Regions from separate parts of the Homo sapiens genome. Here regions 2, 3 and 4 are each reported to be linked to region 1. The links are microRNA targets in miRTarBase. Many come from high-throughput screens and were not tested one by one. Region 1 holds a microRNA gene; each other region holds the end of a gene's coding sequence.
What was found. The annotated mature microRNA hsa-miR-6515-5p reads UUGGAGGGUGUGGAAGACAUC and lies in region 1 at 3,682-3,702, shown strand. An mRNA with a match to its seed (bases 2 to 7 or 8) in the 3' UTR can be bound and repressed. Matches are read on the target gene's strand: a 7mer-m8 pairs with bases 2 to 8, a 7mer-A1 pairs with bases 2 to 7 and ends in A, and an 8mer does both.

Region 1 (7,121 bases):
CAGGAGGAAGGGTCAGCAAGAGGCCTGGGATGGTCCCCGGGATCCTCATGGGGGGGACCAGACTAGGCAATACTGAATACTACCTAGAGGAAGTGGTAGAACCCCAACTTCCCAGTTCATTCTCCCCCGTCTTTTTTTCGAGATGGAGTCTTGCTCTGTCACCTGGGCTGGTGGGCTGGAGTGGAGTGGCGTGATCTTGGCTCACTGCAATCTCTGGCTCCCAGGTTCAAGCGATTCTCCCACCTCAGCCTCCCGAGTACTGGGATTAGAGGCACCCGCCACCACGCCTGGCTAATTTTTATTTATTTATTTATTTTTATTTTTAGTGGAGATGGGTTTTCACCTTGTTGGCCAGGCTGGTCTCGAACTGACCTAAAATGATCTGCCCGCCTCGGCCTCCCCAAGTGCTGGGTTTACAGGCGTGAGCCACTGCGCCCGGCCACCATTTCTTTTTTTTTTTTTTAACCAGAGACCCTTGCCAAGTCATTCCCCCCACTCCACTTTATTTTCCTTTTCATTTTTTCCTTCCTCTCTTTTCTGAGTCACAACCATTAGCCAGGAAGCACCCCCTCCCCACCCTCTTTCCTGGATCCCCCTCATTCCCTCCTTCCATAGTCCACTCCCGCGCTCCCAGGTCCAGGGCTTATTTGCCCAGAGTTTGGAAAACCCCCAGCTCTCCTTCCTCCTTTCTACAGCGTGGGGGCAGGGTACTGGTGCCAGTCACGTGCCTCTGGCTTCTGAAGAAGACTCTAGACTGGGGTCGGGGGGTGGGTCCTGCCCATCTCCCTAGCATCTTATCGTCCCTACCATCTGTGTCTTTTTTCCCTCCCCAAACGGAACCCCCTGCCCTCTCGCCTGCCTATAGCCGTTTAATTGCAAAAGCCAGGCCGTTTGTGGGAGACCACAGACAGCGACCCCCTTCATTTACCGGTTGAGAGGAGGGTAAAGGGGCGGCTGCAATCTGGGTAATAACCCTATCCCCACTCCAGAAGTCACAGTCACATCGTTAAGCCTTCCTCCCCTCTTGTCCCAGGACAGCTTTAAAAACGTTAAAAGCATTTCTGCTGGGTAGCATCTGGCCAGGGTCGCCCCCTCTGTCTGCTCAGGAACGTCTGTCACTTCAGAGAGCTTAAGTGACTTGCCCCGGTCACACAGCAGCAGTCCGATAGGCTGCCAGGGCTCTAGGGGCAGAAGGAGGAGAGGGCTGGCATTCTTCCCACCGGCCCGCGTGACTGTAGCACCGGGGTGCAGCGAAGCCCCAAGGGCCCCAATCCGTGAGCTCTCTCCCATCCCAGGCAGGGGTGGGGGAGCAGCAGTGGGGTGCTGGTTCTCAAATGCAAGATAAGAGCTGGCTAAGAAAGCCTTGCCCAGCCCCTCCACCTAGAGGGAATGGGAGGGAGAGAAGCTGAGGGCAGGGTCCCGGTCCCGCGTGGAGACAGCTGCGCTCCCGCGGTTTCTTTAAACGCCCAGATGGGCAACGACGCGCGCGGACGAGGGCGGGGTTGGGTTCAGGTCTGGTCACATGACCTGGCCTGAGGTGCTCGCGGCCCCCACCCCACCAGTGGGCGTCCCCCCCACGCGTGGTCGACCATCATTGGTCGGTGGTGAGGCCAATAGAAATCGGCCATCTGGGAACCCAGCGTTCCGAGGCGCAGCCTAACATAGTGAACCGACGAAGGTCCAATGGAAAAAGACGGCCATGGGCATAGACCAATGACAAAGTGGCAGGGGCGGGCCCAAGGGCTGGGTCAGGTTGGTTTGAGAGGCGGGTGGGTATAAAAGTGCAAGGCGGGCGGCGGCGTCCGTCCGTACTGCAGAGCCGCTGCCGGAGGGTCGTTTTAAAGGGCCCGCGCGTTGCCGCCCCCTCGGCCCGCCATGCTGCTATCCGTGCCGCTGCTGCTCGGCCTCCTCGGCCTGGCCGTCGCCGAGCCTGCCGTCTACTTCAAGGAGCAGTTTCTGGACGGAGGTAACGCCTGGTCCCGCCTCGAGGCCGCCCCGACGACGCGGCCGGCCCCCGATCCTGGATCTGCGTTGTCGCCCGTAATTACCGTTTAGAGGTCCAACACGGTGGCCTCCCGGGACTAGAGCCGCGGGCGATTTCTCTTCTGCGTCCCTGGGGAGCGCGGAGGGCGTAGCGGCCTCCCGCGGCGGGAGTTAGGGTTAGCCCGAGGATCTCTGAAGGCACCCGACGTGTCAAACTAGAGGTTGGAATGGGGAGTGTCGGGGATCTCCTTTCCTGTCCCCAGCAGCTTGTGGCTCTCGGCAGATGTTTGGTGTGGGGGGGGATTAGCACAGCCGCTCTGACCTACCCCTCTAATCCCCCACTTAGACGGGTGGACTTCCCGCTGGATCGAATCCAAACACAAGTCAGATTTTGGCAAATTCGTTCTCAGTTCCGGCAAGTTCTACGGTGACGAGGAGAAAGATAAAGGTAAGAGCCTAGGAGTGGGTGCTCAGATCCGGGAGGACTTCCTGGCAGAAGTCCTTGTCTGTACACACACAGCCGGGACAGTCCCCTTGGAGGAGGACAGGTGGAGGAAGTGGGGGAGTCTTCTCTATTCTCTAAGTCGAGGGTCCTCGCGAGTCAAGGCCCAACGGTGACCTCACTACCGTCCCGTCTCAGGTTTGCAGACAAGCCAGGATGCACGCTTTTATGCTCTGTCGGCCAGTTTCGAGCCTTTCAGCAACAAAGGCCAGACGCTGGTGGTGCAGTTCACGGTGAAACATGAGCAGAACATCGACTGTGGGGGCGGCTATGTGAAGCTGTTTCCTAATAGTTTGGACCAGACAGACATGCACGGAGACTCAGAATACAACATCATGTTTGGTGAGGGCCTGCTTCCTGGTGCTGATCTCTGTCCCATTAGTTAGAGGGAGACCCAGACCCCATTGACTTTCTTAATAATGATTTTTTTTGGAAGGGGAGCTAAAAGAATAAGTCCCAGCAACAATTTATTGCATTATGATCGCAGATCTAGGCTGTTAATTTAATTTGCGTGTTTGTATATAGTTATTTCCCAATCTTACTAATGAGGATTTTGAGTTCTAGAGCACTGATTTTTTTTTTTTCTCCTTTAAACTTAAGGCTCCACCCACAGCCCATTCAGGACAGAATCAGGGTCTGAGTTTCTCTTCTCAGCCTTGACAGACCCGAGTTGAAGAACCAGGTCTTCCTTTTATAAAGAGGGGTGAGAGCCTCGAGATGATGGGTAGTCTCTGACTCTTAACTGGATCTGCTTCACACCTAGGTCCCGACATCTGTGGCCCTGGCACCAAGAAGGTTCATGTCATCTTCAACTACAAGGGCAAGAACGTGCTGATCAACAAGGACATCCGTTGCAAGGTGTGCCTGGGGGTGGTGGCAAATGGCTGTCATGGGGAGATTCAGAGGTCAGCCTCATTGGGGGGTGGCCCCCGCTCACCTTCTTCCTTCTTCAGGATGATGAGTTTACACACCTGTACACACTGATTGTGCGGCCAGACAACACCTATGAGGTGAAGATTGACAACAGCCAGGTGGAGTCCGGCTCCTTGGAAGACGATTGGGACTTCCTGCCACCCAAGAAGATAAAGGATCCTGATGCTTCAAAACCGGAAGACTGGGATGAGCGGGCCAAGATCGATGATCCCACAGACTCCAAGCCTGAGGTTGGTGTTTGGGCAGGGGCTCTGCTCTCCACATTGGAGGGTGTGGAAGACATCTGGGCCAACTCTGATCTCTTCATCTACCCCCCAGGACTGGGACAAGCCCGAGCATATCCCTGACCCTGATGCTAAGAAGCCCGAGGACTGGGATGAAGAGATGGACGGAGAGTGGGAACCCCCAGTGATTCAGAACCCTGAGTACAAGGTGAGTTTGGGGCTCTGAGCAGGGCTGGGGCTCACAGTGGGGAGTGCACCAACCTTACTCACCCTTCGGTTTCCTTCTCCCTTCTGCAGGGTGAGTGGAAGCCCCGGCAGATCGACAACCCAGATTACAAGGGCACTTGGATCCACCCAGAAATTGACAACCCCGAGTATTCTCCCGATCCCAGTATCTATGCCTATGATAACTTTGGCGTGCTGGGCCTGGACCTCTGGCAGGTGAGACTTGGAGGAAAAAGGAGGATCCCTGGGGTACCTCAAGTGCATAAGATCACCCAAGAGGAAAGGGACAGGGTAGGCACCCCAGGTGAGTCTGACTCAAAAATGGTACTTCTTGTAAACAGTACTTCCTGGTCTGTCCCTGTGAAGTCCTCACAGCAACCCCTTTAAGGTTATACTTGCTGTGCACCAAGTACTTCCCCAAGTACTTTTATGCAAATCAACTTCTTTACCCCCAAAGACCTAGAAGGTGGTCAGGTAACCCAGTTAGTTAGCTGGGGCTGGGCACAGTGGCTCACCCTTACAATCACGGTACTTTGGGAGGCTGAGACAGAGGATTGCTTGAGGCCAGGAGTTACACAACTCAACCTAGCTTGGCAACACAGCGAGGAGACCCTATCTCTACAAAAAAAATTTTTTTTTTTGAGACAGAGTTTCACTCTTGTTGCTGAGGCTGGAGTGCAATGGCACGATCTCAGCTCACTGCGCCCTCCGTCTCCTGGTTTCAAGCGATTCTCCTGCCTCAGCCTCCGGAGTAGCTGGGATTACAGGCATGTGCTACTATGGATGCCAGGCTAATTTTTTTTTTTTTTTTTTTTTTTGAGACCGTGCCTTGCTCTGTCGCCCAGGCTGGAGTGCAGTGGTGTGATCTCTGCTCACTGCAAGCTCCGCACGACCCCCCAGGTTCACTCCATTCTTCTGCCTCAGGGTCCCGAGTAACTGGGACTACAGGCACCCCCCACCATGCCTGGCTAATTTTTTTGTATTTTTTTTTTTAGTACAGACATGGTTTCACCGTGTTAGCCAGGATGGTCTCCATCTCCTGACCTCATGAACCACCCACCTTGGCCTCCCAAAGTGCTGGGATTACAGGCGTGAGCCACCTCACCCAGCCTTTTTGTAGAGACAGGGCTTCATGTTGCCCAGGTTGGTCTCGAACTCCTGGCCTCAGGTCATCTGCCCGCCTCGGCCTCCCAAAGTGCTGGGATTACAAGGGTTAGCCACCATGCCTAGCCTCTACAAAAACTTTAAAAATTGGCGAGATGTCATGCATACCTGTAGTCCCAACTACCAAGGAAGAAGGATGATCACTTGAGCCTGGGGCATCGAGGCTGCAGTGAGCCATGATTATGTCACTGCACTCCAGCCTCGGTGACAGAGTGAGACCCTCTCAAAAAAAGTTGGGACTTGGCCGGACACAGTGGCTCACACCTGTAATCCCAGCACTTTGGGAGGCCAAGGCGGGTGGATCACAAGGTCAGGAGATGGAGACCATCCTGGCTAACATGGTGAATGAAACCCCATCTCTAGTAAAAATACAAAAAATTTGCCAGGTGTGGTGGTGGGCGCCTGTAGTCCCAGCTACTCGGGAGGCTGAGGCAAAAGGATGACGTGAACCCGGGAGGCGGAGCTTGCAGTGAGCTGAGATCATGCCATTGCACTCCAGCCTGGGTGATAGCGAGACTCTGTCCCAAAAAAAAAAAAAAATGCTGGGACTGAATTTTTGTCTGTTTTGGTCACTGAAATACCTTCTGTGCCCAAGACAGTTCTGGCATGTAGTAGGTACCTGAAAAATACCTGAATAAGAGAGTGAGAAACAAGAAACAGGTGCAGAGAACTGAAGTCAGTGGCCCAAGGTCATGGGGGTAGGAAACCACAAAGCTGGGGTTTGAACCTGGGCAGTACAGCACCTGAGTCTCTCCATCTTTTTTTTTTTTTTTTTTTAAGACAGAGTCTTGCTCTGTCACCCAGGTTGGAGTGCAGTGGCTTGATCTCGGCTCACTGCAGCCTCTGCCTTCCAGGTTCAAGTGATTCTCATGCCTCATCCTCTCGAGCAGCTGGAATTACAGGCATGCGCCACGACGCTGGGCTTTTTTTTTTTTGAGATGGAATTTCACTCTTGTTGCCCAGGCTGGAGTGCAATGATGCAATCTCGGCGGCTCACCACAACCTCTGCATCCCAGATTCAAGCGATTCTCCTGCCTCGGCCTCCTGAGTAGCTGGGATTACAGGGATGCGCCATCACAGACCCCGGGCTAATTTTTTTTAGTAGAGACAGAGTTTCACTATGTTGCCCAGGTTGGTCTCGAACTCCTGGCCTCAAGTGATCCGTTCGCCATGACCTCCCAAAGTGCTGGGATTACAGGCATGAGCCCGTCCCGTCCCTGGCTGTCTCTCCATCTTTCCATCTTTTTTTTTTTTTTTTTTTTTTTTGGAGATGGAGTCTCACTCTGTCACCCAGGCTGGAGTGCAGTGGCACGATCTTGGCTCACTGCAAGCTCCGCCTCCTGGGTTCACATCATTCTCCTGTCTCAGCCTCCCAAATAGCTGGGACTACAGGCACTTGCCACCACGCCTGGCTGATTTTTTGTATTTTTAGTAGAGACGGGGTTTCACCGTGTTAGCCAGGGTGGTCTCGATCTCCTGACCTCGTGATCCGCCCACCTTGGCCTCTGGGCGAGGATTACAGGCGTGATCCACCTCACCTGGCCTCTCCATCTTTTTAACTGCAGTGTCAGCGGTGTTCCTTGTCTTCTCTGCAGATGCAGGCAGCAGAATATAGTGGTTATAGGAACACAGGTGGAAACCCTGTCCAAAGCAAGGGCTATCGGGTATCACCTCTGACCATCCTTCCCATTCATCCTCCAGGTCAAGTCTGGCACCATCTTTGACAACTTCCTCATCACCAACGATGAGGCATACGCTGAGGAGTTTGGCAACGAGACGTGGGGCGTAACAAAGGTGAGGCCTGGTCCTGGTCCTGATGTCGGGGGCGGGCAGGGCTGGCAGGGGGCAAGGCCCTGAGGTGTGTGCTCTGCCTGCAGGCAGCAGAGAAACAAATGAAGGACAAACAGGACGAGGAGCAGAGGCTTAAGGAGGAGGAAGAAGACAAGAAACGCAAAGAGGAGGAGGAGGCAGAGGACAAGGAGGATGATGAGGACAAAGATGAGGATGAGGAGGATGAGGAGGACAAGGAGGAAGATGAGGAGGAAGATGTCCCCGGCCAGGCCAAGGACGAGCTGTAGAGAGGCCTGCCT
Region 2 (7,121 bases), not on the chromosome of region 1:
GATCACCTGAGGTCAGGAGTTCAAGACCAGCCTGACCAACATGGTAAAACCCCATCTCTATTAAAAATACAAAAATTAGGCCAGGCGTGGTGGCTAACGCCTGTAATCCCAACACTTTGGGAGGCGGGGGAGGGTGGATGACCTGAGGTCAGGAGTTCAAGACCCAGCCTGGCTAACATGGTGAAACCCCGTCTTTACTAAAAATGCAAAAATTAGGTGGGCATGGTGTTGCATGCCTGTAATCCCAGCTACTCCGGAGGCTGAGGCAGGAGAATTGCTTGAACCCAGGAGGTGGAGGTTGCAGTGAGCTGAGATTGCACCATTGTACTCCAGCCTGGGCAACAAGACCAAAACTCCATCTCAGAAAAATAAAACAACAACAACAACAACAAAAAATAAAACCCCAAAATTAGCCAGGCGTGGTAGCACACACCTGTTATCCCAGCTACTAGGGAGGCTGAGGCAGGAAAATTTCTTGAACCCGAGAGGTTGAGGTTGCAGTGAGCCGAGATCGTGCCACAGTACCCCAGCCTGTCTCAAAAAAAAAAAAAAAAAAAAAAAAAAAAAGAGAGCAAGGAGCTCCCATCCTGGAGTGGGGTTTGCCTCCTCTCCCACCAAGCAAGCAGAGGGATTTCTGGTAGCGGGGGTAGAACTGGGCATTGCAGCATTGGCCAGAGGGCTCAGATGAGGAGCGCCAGTGCCAGCACTTCTGAAAAGCATCTATGTGTTGGGGGTGTGCATGGTGTGATGTCCTCATGGCTTAAGTGAGGGTGAGTGGCACCCTGAGCTGCAGCAAGGGGAGGGTGTGAGTACCTAGTTACTTGGGGGGCACAGGAATGGATAGGGATTGGTGATACAGGAAGTGAGTCACAGCAATGCAGGCAAAGGAACAGAGAAGGAAGAAGCAGCAAGTAATGGAAAGAGATGAGTGTCACCAAAGATAAAAAAAGCTGCTGTGCACGGTGGCTCATGCCTGTAAATCTTAGCACTTTTAGAGACCAAGGCGAGTGGATCCTCTGAGCTCAGGAGTTTGACACCAGCCTGGGCAACATGGTGAAACCTCGTCTCTACTAAAACACAAAAAATTAGCCGGGCATGGTGGTGTACACCTGTAATCCCAGCTACTCAGGAAGCTGAGGCACGAGAATTGCTTGAACCTGGGAGGTAGAGGTTGCAGTGAACTGAGATTGCACCACTGCACTCCAGCCTGGGTGACAGAGAGAGAGACTGTGTCCAAAAACAATCAAACAAAACAAACAAACAAACAAAACCAAAAAAACCTAAAAAAGCATACAAGTGAAAAGTTCTAAAAGTAGGTGCAGGTGTTATGACAGTGTATGGAAACCCTAGAACCCTGATATCTATCCTAGAGCATACTGGACTTAAAATAGTCGCCAACATTGTGACAGAAAAGAAGTAAATCATATGACTAGGCAAAGAGTAATATATCATATCAATGTACCTTTGACCTTCCTATTTATTTGAACAGGAAAGTTTTGCCATTCACCAGTTTTTGTGGTGCTGTGATTTCCAGAGCAGTGCCTAAATCGATAGTTTGTGCATAATGTATCTGCTACGTTTCTGTTTTGAAATGTAGCAAAAACTTCAGTAATTTGGAATTAGGTGGGCTAGAGGGAGAAGTCTTGTCGCAGTTAATGAAAATTTGTTTTATTTAATTAATTAGTTTATTTATTTATTGAGATGGAGTCTCACTCTGTTGCCCAGGCTGGAGTGCAGTGGTGTGATCTCTGCAATCTTGGCTCACTGCAACCTCTGCCTCTCGGGTTCAAGCAATTCTCCTGTCTTAGCCTCCTGAGTAGCTGGGACTATAGGCGCACACCACCACGCCTGGCTGATTTTTGTACTTTTAGTAGAGGTGGGGTTTCACCATATTGGTCAGGCTAGTCTTGAATTCCTGACCTCAGGGGATCCAACTACCTCGGCCTCCCAAAGGGCTGGGATTACAGGCGTGAGCCACTGTGCTCAGCCTATTTTTATTTTAAAAACATTTTTAGATTTCTATTTTGTTTTCAAATCTCAGAGCTGTGTGAGATAAAATTTAAGTTTTTCAAAGAAACAATTTTTACTTGTACCAGATTCTCAAAGCAGTTGAATCTAGACTGATAGAAGTTGTCACTTGAAGATCTGGCAGCCCATTTTCATGAATGGTTAGGATAGAATAACTGTTGTAAGTATATTTTGCTTTAAATGGAAGGAGTGGGAAGTACTGCTAAAGTATTTCCAAAAATGTTTGGAAGCGGTTTAACATTTTTAAGTTGGTCAAGCAAGCATATACCATACACAATTTTCTTTTCCCTCATCTAGAAGTTGATAGAACAGGCACATAACTATTTGATCTCTTTAGAGCAGTAGTGGGAAGCCCTTTCTTCCCTCTAGGATAACACTCTGTAATTCTTCCTCCTGTCTAAAACATCTCTATCGGGCTTTGTTGCTTTGTATTCCAGAGTTTTAACATTCTGTATCTCTTTGAAAATAATTCCACTGGGATTAACCCTTGGCACTTAGTGCAAAATTGCTAGTGAAATAGAAAAAATGGGATTTTTTTTAGGGAAGAAGAAAAAAAGGTCCTTTTGGAGCAGAAGCCCTTCCCTGGTGAGGCAGAGCTGGGTAGGTGCTTAAAATGGTAGTTCTGAGTAGCCAGAGGCTGCAACATTTGGGCACCCACCTGGCCCCCATTTCTTAACATTGTTTAGCAAATCCCTTTATTATAGATAACACAAAACTCACATGCGTGGTATCTGAGTTACAATCAATTTCAAATTAATAGTTCTCACAAAAACCCCAGGAGCATATGCAAATCTCCCCCCTTCCCAAAATACCAAAGACTTCTTCCGTAACACTGCAAAAAGATAATTTTTATATTTCAGTCCAAAATCTGTATACAGTCAGTTTGGTTGACTTGGTCCAGTCAGTTCAGAACCAACTAGTTAGTTCCAGATAAAAATAGTCACACTAGCTGTTTATAGACATCTTTTTAATGTTTTACTTTAAAACAAATAATCCCAGTAAAAGAGAGCAAAGGAAATTACACTTTAATGATAGCTTGAAATGGATATGGTGTTCCCGATTTATTTGTTTTCAGGAAACAGACAATTGCATTGTCATACATGACTTAGAACTGCTTACTTAAATGCACATTATTAGATTAGATTAAGTTTCTCTTACAAAAACACAACCATGTCATTTAAGGCGAAAAATCTCAGCTTCTAGGGAGACAAGTTAATATTTATGATATTTCCTCTATCTGATTTAGTGAAATGATCCATTAATTTAGTTAGCCAGGTTTCATCATCCTTACAGTTTTGCTTTGCAAATGGCATGAGAATTGGTCAATTTGTGCCTGATTTCCTCCTCTCTAGTAGACTTATTTTACTTGCAAATTAAGAACTTCAGAATCACTGAATCAATGGGAGGTGAGAAAGGCACCTTAGAACAGATCAGGACTTAAAAACTCAATAAAGTTATTTTAAACAAAACTTGCAATCTACAAATATTAATTTAGTTGAACAAAATGCAAACATGTAGATCAGACATAGCAAAATTTTTTTAGTTAACCTCATACAAGGGATATTTGCAATTAAGTATTAGCTTGATCAACCCTACATGTTGAAGAAGGCAGACACACTTGTACTCAGAAAGCATATGGCTACTCAGTGCTCAGCTAAATTGTGCTTCAAGACATCATTAAAATTGACCAATGGAAATTTGCTTAGTGTAAATGGGAGACCCCTCTCATTTCCACAGAGAGTAACACGACAGACAGAACCTTATAGCTTCCACACAACTATCTTTTAACATCCCCCAATTTTTGTGCTAGAGTAAGATAGACACAAAATGGTCATGGCTTCAATGTATAAAAGTTTTTCACAACATGGTTTATCACATTTTGCTATGATTAAGACCTCAGTGCTGTGTGTAGGTTTTGTTTCTGAATCTTCAGTCGTCAGCAATGCTGGGTGAGCTGTACTGTGTTTGAGACTTAACGAGGCCTAAGGAGGGGTCCCCAATACATTCAGAATTCCTGCTGCCAGTGGGGTTTGACCCAGGACAGAGTATGTCCAAGAATCAGTGCTACCTGAAAGTTGCTGCCTCCCTCCTCTTCCTCTGTTAATAATGGGAGAGAGCCTGCCCAGTCACGGCAGGTGTCTGGCTTTAGGTCAGTGGAGGGGTGTGTGTGTGTGTGTGTGTGTGTGTGTGTGTGTGTGTGTGTGTGTGTGTGTGTGTGTGTGTATGCAACATTCTTGCAAGGGGGAATCACAACTTCAGGTTGAATGAAGATGAAAAATTGATTTTCATAATTTACTAACATTCTGTATTTTGAAAATGAAAACAATTGCTTAAAAGGATTGACAATGTCTTAACTGAAGTGTAAAATTTAGCCTCTATCTTCTATACATTTCCAGCAGCCAAAAAGATTCTAAATGATTCTAATTGTCTTAGAATCCAAGTGGGATGCGAAGAGGAAGCTTTAAAAATTTCCATGTTTATCAAAAGGGACAAGGTTCTAAAAGGTTGAGAAGCACATTTTAGGTAAAGCGGAGAACTGGTTGACCTGGGGATGGAGGCTGGTTAAGGCCTGGTGAAGTTCAGAAGCAAAATACTGGCAGGGAATGAATAAGGAGTTAATGAAGAAGAAAAGCAGGGGAGAGTCAATGATGGAGAAAGCCTGTTGGGGAGGGCTGGGGAGGATTGGTGGAGTTCAGGGCCTCCTTCTTCCTTTGAACATCCACTTGATAACCCTGCTCATTCTGCTTGGCTGCTGGAGAAGTACTTCTGGAGGCAGCATTTATGTCTGCCAAGGAAACAACTTCCTTTCTTGAGTCCTCCTGTGGCTAGGGTTTAATTGAATTGAAATGCTATCTCTTATGTCCTTTTTTTTTGAATGTCATTACGTTGGCTGAAGTTCTGGTGACCTAAGATAGCTAGATGGGTTTCTAACAAGCAGTCAGCATTGCTTGCTTTCTGATAAATACATTTGTCATTTTGTTTCCCTTGGTCTTTTTGCTGCCATGATATATTTAAGTGTTCTGATTTGCAGACTCTGCCAGTACTATCTAGCTTCTAATTGTAAATGTTTATATCAGGAAATTGAACCAGTAATTTCAGATTTGGGACAACATTCTTGGGAAGAATAGAAAATTTTCACTACAGTATAAAAAGTAAAGGAAGTTTCGTTTTAGACTTTCATATGCAAAATGTACACATAATAGCAAAAGACATTCAGGGCATATTAAAAAATAAATACCTTGCAAAAATTCTCTGCTTATATATAAGAATAAGGGAAGATTAGGTAGTTGAATTCCCTAGCAATACTCATTTTCTAAAAAGTCTAGTTCTTCTATTTTGGTTTGTTTCTCTCCCTCTCATTGCCCTTTGAGGGGGAAGTCATTTTCTTTTACTTTGCCAACTTCCTGGTGGTGTTTCTGGGTTCTTTTCAAGCCTTTCCTATCTCAGTCCCACTCAAATGTCCCATCCCCCATAGTCCTACCTGTATGTCAGCGAAATGAGAATAGCTTCTCACACTTGCCCTTTACATAGGCAGTATTGGCAAGCCTGGGGTTGGCGCCATTGCAGAGAAACCAGTCCAATCACAATGGCTGTTCTACTGACCAGTATTTCATACGCTTGTGTAGAAGTTGACCACTTATAAAGTTGATTCTGCCATCAGGCAATATGTTTTCATAAAGTCAAATATGTCAGATAGTCTATTTGCCTCACTGGCCCTGAATTTCATTATTTGCACATTTTCTAATTGAAGAACATTCTTGTCATAAAGAACAACATGAAAATGATGTGCAAAATTGCTTGCCACAGCGCTAAATCACCAAAAGCACACAAATTGACATTCAAATTACATTAATAATAAAATGACTGAATAGGAATGGGTTGGCAAATATATCTTGAAATAAGCAGCCATTTCTATTATTCCCCAATTCTGCTTTAGTTGATACCTTATTAGCAGCTGTTGATAGCCATTGTGTTTAAATATACATTATGGCCTAATCTTGAAAATGTAGTTTGTATTTAGTCACAAAGCAGAAATGCCTGAAATTTGAAGGTGTTTACTCCCATAATTTCAAAATACAGTGTCAAATCTTCTAAATGACCTAAACTTGACATATTCATACACCCCATAGCATTAGCTGTGTTTGGTTTCTCAGGCTTTTTAACTCAAGGTACATTACTAAATGAGTGGGTTAATGTCGATGCACCTTGGAATTTTAGCCATCCCTAAACATGCATTTTCATGCAATTAAAAGGTAACGGGCTTATAAACTGCCTTTCATGTTCTTCCCGATTCTTGCAATTTCAACTTTTTAGAAGGGCTTTCGAAATAGTTCATGCAATGATATGTATGGCTAAAGAACTGCTATGCCTGGAAAGAAAATGAAGAACTTATTTCAGTTTGACATGAGGCAAGCTGAGGGCATCTGTACTTTCTCCTGCCTTACAAATGCTCTGAGATGATCGTGACCTTCCAGTCCTTAGAGAGTCTGATGCAAAGGCAGCTTCCCTGGCAGGCTGCGGTGCGGCATCAAAAGTGTCTGTCTCTGTCTCTTCGGGACCCACCTCTTCATCAGTTATAAACAATTTGGATTCCCTCCATTTGGGGTAAAAATCTTGGCTGCCTCTGGAGCCACTTGACTCACTCCCTGAAAGTTGTATATTCAGTTCCTCGGTCGACCTGATCAGGTTTTGCACAGACAAAGATTTGCCCAAGTCCTTCGGCACCATGGGACAGACAGACAACAGAGTTTCTCCTCCCATGTCAAAGCTTTTCCTCATAGAACGGTCCTTGGTGAGATTTGACTGTGCAACCTGAACATTTTCCTTGGAGGCAACAAGGCAGGTGGTGACGTCAGAAATGCTTTCCTGTAAGCCTGCAGGGTTAGGGTGCAGAGTTTCTGGCCTGGGCAGATGCTTGATGGCTGGGAGAGGAGGTGGGATCTGTAAAGTTGTTGGGGCTGCTGGCTTGGGTGCCGTATTTATTTGGTTTGCAATGGTGTTGGTGGCTGCCACTGCTGAGCCATCGCTTTGACTAATTGGCACCTGTGTTGCTTGACTGTGCATAGTAGGGCTAAGCGCGTAGAAAGTCTGGG
Region 3 (7,121 bases), not on the chromosome of region 1:
GAAAGTCTCTCTAGGATACCAATGACTCTGCGGGAAACTCTGAGAATATACGCCAGATTTATGCTTCCTGGGTCTATGCAAATAGGCTCTTGAGGCTAATGGTTAAGATGGTGGACTCGAGTCAAACTGCTTGGTTCTAAACACAGACTAACCGCTTGGTAGCTGTATGAATTTTGGCAAATTTTTTAACCTCTTTGAGCTTTGCTTTCTCATTTCTAAAAGGGAAATACTAACAGAACCTACTTCAAATGGTTTTTGTGAGGATTAAAGGAGTTTATATACAATAGCACCTAGAAAAATGCTATATAAGTGCTTACTGTATTTTTCTTTGTATTTCAATGGCTACAAAAGGTGTTTACTATTTTTTTTATTCATCATCACTTCTCCCTGGGATGTTAAACCTGGATTAAATTCTGCTTTCAAGCTATTAATAATGATTCTTATAAAATGATCTCTTTATTGCTTTCTTTCTGTTTCTCATGAATTAAGGTTTCCCTAGGACTTCTGCATGCCCATGCCACACATATCCTGTGGCCCCCAGAGCGCTGGCAGAAATTGGAATCTGTTCTTCCTCCAGAGCGCTTACCAGTACAGAGAGAAGAGGAATGACTGCATGAATCTACCTGAGTTGCTGGCATTGGGAGGCCAGTTACTGGAAAGGAATGGAAAAAAGAAGCCTCCAAAAGGGAAAAACTTCTGACAATATGATGCTGTGCGAGAAATATTTACAGCACATTAAAACGATCTGTATTATTAAATAAATAATTTTCAAATGTTAAACAGTATTAAATGGCACCTGATTTTGTGTTAAATTTTAGTTCCCTGTTGTTTAATGCCCCCAAAATATGCAGACCTTTGGGAATATAAAAATATTGCACCCACATGTCTTAATGGGGCTGAATTTCAGATTATTTGTTACATATACTTATTATATTGATTGTTGGGTTTTGATTTTGGTGCTTGCTGCTGAAATAAATTGAAAATTAATATTCAATAAAAATGATGTATTTGTCACTTGCTGTTAAGGTAGAACAAGAAGGAACACATATTATACACATAATGATGGGAATTACATTGTGATTTGTACTATCTACAAAGGAGTAACTGCCAGTTAGGAAGAACAGTAAACAGTGATGTTAAAATAAAACAATGATTTGCTAAGGTCCTGTTTTGAGTATTTAATTCTCATTGAGTACATCCATTAATGAGGAATTTCTTATCTCTTCTGAAAATAAGGAATCAAAGTAATGGAGAACCCATTCTGTCGACACTTGCATACAGTCAAGCCTTTCTTATTGGCCCTTTGTAATCCAACATTTCTGAGTGATCTCATGCCTATTCACAATGATGGGTAAACCCCTTTATCCGCATTTAGTCATACTATGTGTTTAAAAGTTCTGAGTGAAATAGAAGAAAAAACAGTCCAGATCAGCCACGTTTGATTTTCTTCCCCTAATTATTTCTCAGTATTCACGTCTGTAATACTGAAATCACCAATTGCAAAGTTACAGTAGAATCATAGAGTCTGTAATTTGTATGGATAATGGAATAAATTCCCTGCATCTAAGTCCATGTTTATGAAAGCTTCTTTTTCTCCCATTGGTTAGAGGTTTGTGTAAATTATTATTAGCATAATCATATTCAACAAATATTAATGAGCACTTACATACTAATGTTGGACAGAATTTTTTTTAAAACAGATCTGCTTAAAATTTTTCTGTGGCTCTTCATTGCCCTTCTCAATTCTTCAGTTCCATTTTCTCTTTTCCCCAACTCGAACTTCATACCCTGGCTTTTAACTGCAGTTTACCAAATACTGCTATTTCAAAGCTTGTAATTTTTTTCTTTCTTGGCAAAGTGCATCCCTTGGAATTATGTGTAAAATGTTTAGTACATAAGGGTATTGACTCTTTACTTGCTGGAACACAGGAGGGTCTATGGGTCATATAGGAGGGGATTGGGAGTACTGAGGGGAGGTAGAGTAAAGAACAAATAGACAGGTGCTGGTAGTGACTGCTATTTACCACTGGTATAGAAGAGTTCAATATTTTAACAGTTTACCCCATTGGCTATCAGCCTTGCTACCTTATTGACTACCCGTGCCATTGTTACTCGAACTATTCATTCAAGATTGTATATCTTTGGAGGGAAGGTAAATGCTCTTTCTATTCAATTTTCTATTCACTAGCCATCCAGCACATCACCAGCAGAGTTAATGCCTAATGCTTGTTGAACAGCTCAGCTGACTAGTTACTTCCTCAGGAATACATCCCCAGGCAAAGTCACTGCTCTACCTGGTATATACCTTCATTAATGTATCACTCTGCATGTTAATGATTCGTGTACATACTTTCTCCCCTACTAGACTGTGAACTAGTAGTCTAATCTAGAGCAGGGTTTATCTTGCTCAACTTGGTCATACGATTGCTCATAATTGACAATAAAATCCTGTCCAATCAATGTATGAATCCTAGGCACTGTGTTAAGGACAGGAAAATCAAAGTAGATAAAACAAAGGTTCTCATAGTCGACTGGTGGGGGCAGGAGGAACTGTAAAGAGGCAAAGAGTTAACATACAATTCCGCAGTAGGTATAGAGCATGGAATAGGTGCAATGGGAGCAGAAAGGGCTGTAAATCTGATTGTGCCTGGGGAAATAGGGATGGGAGAAACCACCACAGGAGGGGTGCCACGGGCTGAGCCTTCTAGGATGAATGGAGTTCCCCTCCTGTGAATTATAAATTTAATCTGTATAAACGATTTCAGTTACTTAAATAGTTTCCTCTCAAACATTACTGCTAGTTTACTGTTCAGGGTGTAGTGTGTGTATTATGTTTTATACATTTAATTTGTAAAATGTGAAATAATGATTGTACCTCAGGAATATTGAGATTTGTAATTAATTTTTTTTCACTTTTTACAACAGTCATTTCAAACAATTTTACCAAGTAACTTATAAAAATGTGTTATATATCGGATGTTCCAAGATGGCCAAATAAGAACAGTTGCAGTCTACAGCTCCCAGCATGAGCAATGCAGAAGATGGGTGATTTCTGCATTTCCAACTGAGGTACTGGGTTTCTCTCACTGGGACTTGTCGGACAGTGGGTGCAGCCAACAGAGCAGGGCGGGCATCGCCTCACCCAGGAAGTGCAAGGAGTCAGGGAATTCCCTTTCCTAGCCAAGGGAAGCCATGACAGATGATACCTGGAAAATCGGGACACTCCCACCCTAATACTACGCTTTTCCAATGGTCTTAGCAAATGGCACACCAGGAGATTATATCCTGCGCCTGGCTCACAGGGTCCCATGCCCACAGAGCCTCGCTCACTGCTAGCATGGCAGTCTGAGATCGAACTGCAAGGTGGCAGCAAGGCTGGGGGAGGGGCGTCCACAATTGCTGAGGCTTGAGTAGGCAAACAAAGCAGCTGGGAAGCTCGAACTGGGTGGAGCCCACTGCAGCTCAAGGAGGCCTGCCTGCCTCTGTAGACTCCACATCTGGGGGCAGGGCATAGCTGAACAACAGGCAGCAAAAACTTCTGCTGGCTTAAACATCCCTATCTGACAGCTTTGAAGAGAGTAGTGGTTCTCCAAGCACAGAGGTTGAGATCTGAGAACGGACAGACTGCCTCCTCAAATGGGTCCCTGACCTCCGAGGAGCCTAACTGGGAGACACCTCCCAGTAGGGGCCGACTGACACCTCAAACAGCTGGGAGCCCCTCTGAGATGAAGCTTCCAGAGGAAGGATCAGGCAGCAACATTTGCCGTTCTGCAATATTTGCTGTTCTATAGCCTCCACTGGCGATACCCAGGCAAACAGGGTCTGGAGTGGACTTCCAGTGAACTCCAACAGACCTGTAGCTCACGGTCCTGACTGTTAGAAGGAAAACTAATAAACAGAAAGGAAATCCACACCAAAACCCCATCTGCACATCACCATCATCAAAGACCAAAGGTAGATAAAACCAAAAAGATGGGGAGAAACCAGAGCAGAAAAGCTGAAAATTCTAAAAATCAGAGCAGCTCTTCTCCTCCAAAGGAACACAGCTCCTCGCCAGCAATGGAACAAAGCTGGATGGAGAATGACTTTGATGAGTTGAGAGAAGAAAGCTTCAGACGATTGGTAATAACAAACTTCTCCAAGCTAAAGGAGGATGTTCAAACCCATCGCAAAGAAGCTAAAAACCTTGAAAAAAGATTAGACAGATGGCTAACTAGAATAAACAGTGTAGAGAAGACCTTAAATGACCGGATGGAGCTGAAAACCATGGCACGAGAAATAACTTAATGCATGCACAAGCTTCAGTAGCCAATTTGATCAAGTGGAAAAAAGGGTATCAGTGATTGAAGATCAAATGAATGAAATGAAGTGAGAAGAGAAGTTTAGAGAAAAAAGAGAAGAAATGAACAAAGCCTCCAAGAAATATGGGACTATGTGAAAAGACCAAATCTACGTTTGATTGGTGTACCTGAAAGTGACGGGGAGAATGGAACCAAGTTGGAAAACACTCTGCAGGATATTATCCAGGAGAACTTCCCCACCCTAGCAAGGCAGGCCAACATTCAAATTCAGGAAATACAGAGAACGCCACAAAGATACTCCTCGAGAAGAGCAACTCCAAGACACATAATTGTCAGATTCACCAAAGTTGAAATGAAGGAAAAAATATTAAGGGCAGCCAGAGAGAAAAGTCAGGTTACTCACAAAGGGAAGCCCATCAGACTAACAGCAGATCTCTCAGCAGAAACTCTACAGGCCAGAGAGAGTGCGGAGAGGGGGGCAATATTCAACATTCTTAAAGAAAAGAATTTTCAACCCAGAATTTCATATCCAGCCAAACTAAGCTTCATAAGTGAAGGAGAAATAAAATACTTTACAGACAAGCAAATGCTGAGACATTTTGTCACCACCAGGCCTTCCCTACAAGAGCTCCTGAAGGAAGCACTAAACATGGAAAGGAACAACCAGTACCAGCCACTGCAAAATCATACCAAATTGTAAAGACCATCAAGGCTAGGAAGAAACTGCATCAACTAACAAGCAAAATAACCAGCTAACATCATAATGACAGGATCAAATTCACACATAACAATATTAACTTTAAATGTAAATGGGCTAAATGCTCCAACTGGACAAAGAGTCAAGACCCAATGGTGTGCTGTATTCAGGAGACCCATCTCGTGTGCAGTGAGACATATAGGCTCAAAAAAAAGGGATGGAGAAAGATCTACCAAGCAAATGGAAAACAAAAAAAAGCAGGGTTTGCAATCCTAGTCTCAGATAAAACAGACTTTAAACCAACAAAGATCAAAAGAGACAAAGAAGGCCATTACATAATGGTAAAGGGATCAATTCAACCAGAAGAGCTAATTTTCCTAAATGTATATGCACCCAAAACAGGAACAGCCAGATTCATAAAGCAAGTCCTTAGAGACCTACAAAGCGACTTAGACTCCCACACAATAATAATGGGAGACTTTAACACCCCACTGTCAACATTAAACAGATCAACGAGACAGAAAGTTAACAAGGATATCCAGGCATTGAACTCAGCTCTGCACCAAGCAGACCTCATAGACATCTACAGAACTCTACACCCCAAATCAACAGAATATACGTTCTTCTCAGCACCACATCACACATATTCCAAAATTGACCACACAGTTGGAAGTAAAGCACTCCTCAGCAAATGGAAAAGAACAGAAATTTTAACAAACTGTCTCTCAGACCACAGTGCAATCAAACTAGAACTCAGGATTAAGAAACTCACTCAAAACTGCTCAACTACATGGAAACTGAACAACCTGCTCCTGAATGACTACTGGGTACATAACGAAATGAAGGCAGAAATAAAGATGTTCTTTGAAACCAATGAGAACAAAGACACAATATACCAGAATCTCTGGGACACATTTAAAGCAGTGTAGAGGGAAATTTATAGCACTAAATGCCCACAAGAGAAAGCAGGAAAGATCTAAAATTGACACCCTAACATCACAATAAAAAGCACTAGAGAAGGAAGAGCAAACACATTCAAAAGCTAGCAGAAAGCAAGAAATAACTAAGATGAGAGCAGAACTGAAGGAGATAGAGACACAAAAAACCCTTCAAAAAATCAATGAATCCAGGAGCTGGTGTTTTGAAAAGATCAACAAAATTGATAGACCGCTAACAAGACTAATAAAGAAGAAAAGAGAGAAGAATCAAATAGATGCAATAAAAAATGATAAAGGGGATATCACCAACAATCCCAGAGAAATACAAACTACCATCAGAGAATACTGTAAACACCTCTACACAAACAAACTAGAGAATCTAGAAGAAATGGATAAATTCCTGGACACATACACCCTCACAAGACTAAACCAGGAATAAGTTGAATCCCTGAATAGACCAATAACAGGCTCTGAAATTGAGGCAATAATTAATAGCCTACCAAACAAAAAAAGTCCAGGACCAGATGGATTCAAAGCTGAATTCTACCAGAGGTACAAGGAGGAGCTGGTACCATTCCTTCTGAAACTATTCCAATCAATAGAAAAAGAGGGAATCCTTCCTAACTCATTTTATGAGGCCGGTATCATCCTGATACCAAAGCCTGGCAGAGACACTACAAAAAAAGAGTATTTTAGACCAATATTCCTGATGAACATTGATGCAAATATCCTCAATAAAATACTGGCAAACCGAATCCAGCAGCACATCAAAAAGCTTGTCAACCACGATCAGGTTGGCTTCATCGCTGGGATGCAAATCTGGTTCAACATACACAAATCAATAAATGTAATCCATCATATAAACAGAACCAAAGACAAAAACCACATGATTTTCTCAGTAGATGAAGAAAAGGCCATTGACAAAATTCAACAGCCCTTCATGCTAAAAACTCTCAATAAACTAGGGATTGATGGGACACATCTCAAAATAATAAGAGCTATTTATGACAAACCCACAGCCAATATCATACTGAATGTGCAGAAACTGGAATCATTCCCTTTGAAAACTGGCACAAGACAGGGATGCCCTCTCTAACCACTCATATTCAACGTAGTGTTGGAAGTTCTGGCCAGTGCAATCAGGCAGGAGAAAGAAATAAAAGGTATTCAGTTAGGAAAAGAGGA
Region 4 (7,121 bases), not on the chromosome of region 1:
AGGTAGGCAGATCATGAGGTCAAGAGATCAAGACCATCCTGGCCAACATGGTGAAACCCTGTCTCTACTAAAAATACAAAAATTAACTGGGCATGGTGGTGTGTGCCTGTAGTCCCAGCTACTCAGGAGGCTGAGACAGGAGAATCGCTGTAACCCAGGAGGTGGAGGTTGCAGTGAGCCAATATCATGCCACTGCATTCCAGCCTGGTGAGAGAGTGAGACTGTCAAAAAAAAAAAAAAAAAAAAAAAAAGAATCCAGGAGCTGGTTTTTTGAAAAGATTAACAAAATAAAGAATAAAAGAGAGAAGACTCAAATACATACACAAAAAAAAAATGATAAAGGGGATATCACCATTGATTCCACAGAAATACAAACTACCATCAGAGAATACTATAAACACCTCCACACAAATAAACTAGAATATCTAGAAGAAATAGATAAATTCCTGGACACATAGACCCTCCCAAGACTAAACCAGAAAGAAGTCGAATCCCTGAATAAACCAATAACAAGTTCTGAAATTGAGGCAGTAATTAATATCCTACCAACCAAAACATGCCCAGGACCAGCCAGATTCACAGCCAAATTCTACCAAAGGCACAAAGAGGAGCTGGAACCATTCCTTCTGAAACTATTCCAAACAATAAAAAAAAGAGCAACTCCTCCCTAACTCATTTTATGAGGCCAGCATCATCCTGACACCAAAACCTGGCAGAGACACAACAAAAATGAAAATTCCAGGCCAATATCCCTGATTAACATCGGTGCTAAAAATCCTCAATAAAATACTGGCAAACTGAATCCAGCAGCAGCACATCAAAAAGCTTATCCACCACGATCAAGTCAGCTTCATCCCTGGGATGCAAGGTTGGTTCAACATAAGCAAATCAATAAACGTAATCCATCACATAAACAGAACCAATGACAAAAACCACATGATTATCTCAATAGATGCAGAAAAGGCCTTTGATAAAATTCAATACCCCTTCATGCTAAAAACTCTCAATAAACTAGGTATTAATGGAACGTATCTCAAAATAATAAAAGCTATTTATGACAAACCCACAGCCAATATCATACTGAATGGGAAAAAGCTGGGAGCATTCCCTTTGAAAACCAGCACAAGACAAGGATGCCCTCTCTCATCACTCCTATTCAACATAGTATTGGAAGTTCGGGCCAGGACAATCAGGCAAGAGAAAGAAATAAACCGTATTCAAATAGGAAGAGAGGAAGTCTAATTGTCTCCATTTGCAGATGACATGATTGTCTATTTAGAAAACTCCCATCGTCCCAGCCGAAAATCTCCTTAAGCTGATAAGCAACTTCAGCAAAGTCTTAGGATACAAAATCAATGTGCAAAAATCACAAGCATTCCTATACATCAATAATAGACAAACACAGAGCCAAATCATGAGTGAACTCCTATTCACAATTGCTACAAAGAGAATAAAATACCTAGGAATACAACTTACAAGGGATGTGAAGGACCTCTTCAAGGAGAACTATAAACGACTGCTCAAGGAAATAAGAGAGGACACAAACATATGGAAAAAGATTCCACGCTCATGGATAGGAAGAATCAATAGCATGAAAATGGCCATACTGCCCAAAGTAATTTATAGATTCAATGCTATCTCCCTCAGGCTACCATTGACTTTCTTCACAGAATTGGAAAAAAGCTACTTTAAATTTCATATGGAACCAAAAAAGAGCCCATACAACGAAGACAATCCTAAGCAAAAAGAACAAAGCTGGAGTCATCACGCTACCTGAATTCAAACTATACTATAAGGCTACAGTAACCAAAACAGCATGGTACTGGTACTAAAACAGATATATAGACCAATGGAACAGAACAGAGGCCTCAGAAATAATGCCTCACATCTACAACCATCTGATTTTTGACAAACCTGACAAAAACAAGCAATGGGGAAAGGATTCCCTATTTAATAAATGGTGCTAGGAAAACTGGCCAGCCATATGCAGAAAACTGAAACGGGACCCCTTTCCTACACCTTATACAAAAATTAACTCAAGATGGATTAAAGACTTAAACCTAAGACCTAAAACCATAAAACCCTAGAAGAAAACCTACACAATAACATTCAGGACATAGGCATGGGCAAAGACTTCATGACTAGAATACCAAAAACAAGGGCAACAAAAGCCAAAATTGACAAATGGGATCTAATTCAACTAAAGAACTTCTGCACAGCAAAAGAAACTATCATAAGGGTGAACAGGCAACCTACAGAATGGGAGAAAATTTTTGCAATCTACTCATCTGACAAAGGGCTAATATCCAGAATCTACAAGGAACTTAAACAAATTTACAAGAAAAAAAAAACCCATCGAAAAGTGGGCAAAGGATATGAACAGATGCTTCTCAAAAGAAGACATTTATGCTGCCAACAAACATATGAAAAAAAGCTCATCGTCACTCGTCATCAGAAAAATGCAAATCAAAACCACAATGAGATACCATCTCACGCCAGTTAGAATGGCGATCATTAAAGTCAGGAAACAACAGGTGCTGGAGAGGATGTGGAGAAATAGGAATGCTTTTACACTGTTGGTGGGAGTGTAAATTAGTTCAACCATTGTGGAAGACAGTGTGGCAATTCCTCAAGGATCTAGAACTACAAATACCATTTGACCCAGCAATCCCATTACTGGGTATACACCCAAAGGATTATAAATCATTCTACTTTAAAGACACATGCGCTCGTATGTTTATTGCAGCACTGTTCACAATAGCAAAGACTTGGAACCAACTCAAGTGCCTATCAATGATAGACTGGATAAAGAAAATGTAGCACATATACACCATGGAATACTATGCAGCCATAAAAAATGAGTTCATGTCCTTTGCAGGGACATGGATGAAGCTGGAAACCATCATTCTCAGCAAACTAACACAGGAACAGAAAACCAAACACCGCATGTTCTCACTCATAAGTAGGAGTTGAACAATGAGAACATATGGGCACAGGGAGGGGAACATCACACACTGGGGCCTTTTGGTGGGTGGGGAGCTAGGGGAGGGAGAGCATTAGGAGAAACACCTAATGTAGATGATGGGTTGATGGGTGCAGCAAACCACCATGGCACGTGTATACCTATGTAACAAACCTGCACCTTCTCCACATGTATCCCAGGACTTAATATACCTAATGCTAGATGACGAGTTAGTGGGTGCAGCGCACCAGCATGGCACATGTATACATATGTAACTAACCTGCACAATGTGCACATGTACCCTAAAACTTAAAGTATAATTAAAAAAAAAAAAATAAATAAATAAATAAAATAAAGTATAATAATAATAAATGAAACTAATCTGAAATTAAAAGTTTACTTTAAAAAAAATTAAAAAAAGAAAAGAAACAAAGATTGGCAAGTTCTTTAAAAGTGAAACATCTACATATCATCTGATCTAGCCAATCCACTCATCAGTATTTGCTCAGGAAAAATAAAAATATATGTCAACAAAAATACTTGCAAAATAATGTGTATAGCAGCTTTATTTCTAATAACCCAAAACTGGAAACAACACAAATGTCCACCAACAGGCAAACAGATAAACAAACTGGTATAGCTATAAAATTAAATACTATTTGGAATAAAAAGAATGCAGTATCATTGTGTGGATGTGGATGTATCTCAAAATAATTATAATGAGAAAAAAAGTCCAACCAAAAAAATAAAAGAGTGTCTATTGTGATGATATTTACATGATTTTATTTATGGAAAATTCTAAAAAATGCTAACTAATACATAGTTACAGAAAGCAGATCAGAGGTTGCCTGGGGAGCGGGGGATGAGGAGGAACAAGAAGTTTGTAGGGATAGGCTCACAAAGAAACAAGAAAATTTTGGGGGGTGATGGACAAGTTTATTATCTTGATTATGCTGATGGTTTCACAGATGTAAAACTATGTCAACATTTACCAAAGTCCACATTTTAAATATGTGCAAAATTTAACAAACTGTACACTTAAATATATCAATTATATCTCAGTAAAGCCGTTTTCAGAAGTTTGTAAGTGAAGCATAACCCCAATAGATATTTAGTTATGATGAATTACTTTCAAATTATTAGAGATATTGAAAGAGAGAGAGACAGAGAAAGAGAGAGAAAATTGACAAATCTAGCAAAGCAAAGGAAAAGATACAAAATGGGATGGGGAGAAAGCACAGTAAATGAGACATATAAAATGTTATTTGTAAAATGTAATCGACTATGTAAGTAATCACACCTAACTCCGTCTCAGCCTCTGCTTCCTGGATGACCTTGCTGACACGCCAGGTCTAATCTCTAGATTCTCTAATTTGACAGGTCTAGCGTGGATTTGGAGAATATATATAATTTTTTATATCATTCTAATGTTCAACCATGTTCCAGCCCCATAGTAGAGATTTTCATACAATTATTTTCTGTACAATATAATTTAACTTCTATAAATTATCTTGAAGTCTTTTCTATGATGTCATTTAACATGCCTGTTTTGACATTATCAAGTTAAGAGGTAAGCATAGTACTGTCTTACTTTGTTTTTCAGTAATATTTAAACAGATAGTCTTGAACCTAACTATGAGCCTCAGCTCAACCAGGGTTGGATGAAGAATTAATAAATTTCAAGGACAGTGTAATGATGTCTATTGTGAACATTGCTTGGTAATATTTATATGCAGAAACCTAATGGACACTGCTTTTTGGTCAAGTCAAAATGGCTTGATCAAAATATCATGTGCCAAGTGTCATTAGATTAGCTTTACATCCAAAATAGACTAAAAGTCCCTTTGAGGACAAAATCCATAGTAACTGAAATGTCTAGAGGGAGAAAAATATACTTATAAGACAAAATAGCTGTCTTAAAAATCTCAGATGGTATGATTGAAGAATGAATATATTTTGTTTCAATTTCTATCATGATGAAAAAACTTCTCATGTTTTTTCTGCTATGGAGCAAATAGACTTATGTTTTTAATTAAAAATAATTTCATGATATTAACAATGATTTACATAAACATTGCCAATATTTTGCTCCACAAAAATATGGAGGGGAGGGTCATGCCATCCCATGGCCACTTGCTTATTATGTAGCTCATAGTTTGTAAATAAATACCCCATGTCCTCTATGGTGCATTTTTCGCCACTTATATGGTCAATAGACATTAATTATTCAATAAATATATCACAATAGAATGTACACCATAAAAATACACAATTCCAATGTAGCACATCTGCAAAACTGTTAGGCATCAAGTATCAACACCTCTGTGGAGATATAATGAGTTCAGAAGAAGCTAATGTTCTCACACGTGCATTCACTCTCTTACAAACATGACCAAAAATATAAATCCATTTTTATTAAATAGTATAATTCTTATTATAATCTCACATCATATTTAATCTGGTTGATTAAAAAGAGAAAGTGGCAACTGTAGAAGCAGGAATAGTACAGTTATTAAAATAGAAATTTAGGGAAAGGCACATTTAAACAATGTTGGAGGGAATTTGACATATATATTTGACACAATTTAACATATATATCAATAGTAAAATGCACAAACCCTTTGACCTGACAATTCCACTCAAGAAAGTTATCCTACAGATATACTCAAAAACAAAGAGATATATGCACAAGAAACATTCTATGTGGTATTGTTTATACCACAAACAAAACTTAAAAGAAATAAACAAAACTTAAAAGAATCTAAATATCCATCATTAGGGTTGTTTTTAATTAAATAATGATATAACTATACAATGGAATTTTATATAACCATTAAAAAGAATGAGGTAGCTCTACTTGTCATGATATAAAATGATCTCTAAGACTTATATTATTAGGTTTTCATATGTATAGAACAGTAATGCAGTGTATTGTTCCCACTGGTGCCTTGACAAAGATATGTGCATGTATATGTAAGGGGACACATAAATTGACACATATACCATAGGCATATACACATGTCATATGTACATTAAAATATTCTGAAAGGATACACAAGAAACTGTTCACACTTGCTCCTTCTTCAGTTATTTCTTGAGGAAATTTGGTTTTCATTATTTACTGTCCTGCACAATTTGAATATTTGGTCATGGGCATGTATTTTCTTTGTAATAACATCAGTTCTTCAGAGAACTAGCTGGTAGCAGCTAAGAATCAAAAATTCCAATTATACAAGGGTATGAATGAGAATCCATTAAAATGTCTTCTAAGAACCTTGGAAAACCTAATTTCAATATAAGTCTTCATTCTAGAACTGTAAGAAAATCAGACAGTAATTATAATGTATCTCGTTTGTTGTTGTTTCTTGGTACTAGAGTCCAACAACTTATAAAGTATGGAGGTCTGTGTCAACTTCACTTTGTAATGCCTCAGATGCCTTCACCTTGTTTGTAGTATCATAGAGAGGATTGTTCTTCTCTGTGTAGCTGGCATAGGGCTGCATTTCATCCTAAGAAAGAACTCAAAGTTAAAATCAATTCAAAAAATCATCATAGAGACTATCTGTATTTTTGTAACAGTTGCCCATAGCTTTAGTATTTCTAACAGGTGCTCAAGAGTGCTTATAATTGTGTTTCTGGGCCTATATAAACATAAGAGCAGGATTTGTTCTAACATTTTATCAAAAAGTATTTGTTAACTACATAAGTCTCTGTGTGGAGATAATGGCTCTGTGCAAGTAGGAATGGAGATGAATGAAGTGATATGAGTACTCCAAAGGAGAGCTTTGGAGACTTAGTAAGCTACTTATAATAAGAGATGAAGGAGCAGGATATGTTTTAAGTTTGTGTAAGAGAAAAATAATGATAGTATTGAAAAGGAAAAGTCAGGAATTAGAGATGCTTTCAAATTGGTGACAAGAAACACCAATTCATTTCCTCAAAAGATTACAGTCTAAAGGAGCCAAACATCATATGTGTTAGGATATAGTTCATGAAGTGAAAATGTGGTTCAGAGTGATGATGTATAAATAGTATTTGATAGATAATTAACAAAGTAATCACACATATAAGCACTGCAAGTCAGAACTGTTTTAGTTTTTCAACTGAAACACTAATATTGATACAAACTACAAATTATGTTGCTAGATTTTCAGACTAT

Region 2: the mRNA of KCNQ5 is a reported target of hsa-miR-6515-5p. Seed matches in the 3' UTR shown: 7mer-m8 at 4,183-4,189.
Region 3: the mRNA of IMMP2L is a reported target of hsa-miR-6515-5p. Seed matches in the 3' UTR shown: 7mer-A1 at 677-683.
Region 4: miRTarBase lists CD200R1 as a target of hsa-miR-6515-5p. Seed matches in the 3' UTR shown: 8mer at 5,514-5,521 and 7mer-m8 at 5,064-5,070.

The regions. Positions count from the first base shown.
Region 1 is chr19:12,936,805-12,943,925 of GRCh38, forward strand. It overlaps MIR6515 (microRNA 6515), which reads left to right and starts at 3,680; the gene lies at 3,680-3,736. CALR (calreticulin) reads left to right here and starts at 1,805. Exons shown (of 9, transcript NM_004343.4): 1 at 1,805-1,966; 2 at 2,330-2,431; 3 at 2,624-2,827; 4 at 3,249-3,343; 5 at 3,439-3,648; 6 at 3,737-3,850; 7 at 3,940-4,083; 8 at 6,733-6,825; 9 at 6,909-7,121. The coding sequence starts at 1,876. The coding sequence ends at 7,109. RefSeq lists enhancers at 1,247-1,356, 1,427-1,476, 2,103-2,852, 2,147-2,196, 3,089-4,288 and 1 more and a cis regulatory region at 1,407-2,045.
Region 2 is chr6:73,194,711-73,201,831 of GRCh38, reverse strand. It overlaps KCNQ5 (potassium voltage-gated channel subfamily Q member 5), which reads right to left. Exons shown (of 14, transcript NM_019842.4): 14 at 2,979-7,121. The coding sequence ends at 6,418. Among named protein-coding and RNA genes, the nearest start is that of KHDC1L, 27 kb to the left of the region's middle.
Region 3 is chr7:110,657,090-110,664,210 of GRCh38, reverse strand. It overlaps IMMP2L (inner mitochondrial membrane peptidase subunit 2), which reads left to right. Exons shown (of 6, transcript NM_032549.4): 6 at 490-1,567. The coding sequence ends at 609. Among named protein-coding and RNA genes, the nearest start is that of LRRN3, 430 kb to the left of the region's middle.
Region 4 is chr3:112,917,329-112,924,449 of GRCh38, forward strand. It overlaps CD200R1 (CD200 receptor 1), which reads right to left. Exons shown (of 8, transcript NM_138806.4): 8 at 3,877-6,471. The coding sequence ends at 6,349. Among named protein-coding and RNA genes, the nearest start is that of CD200R1, 54 kb to the right of the region's middle.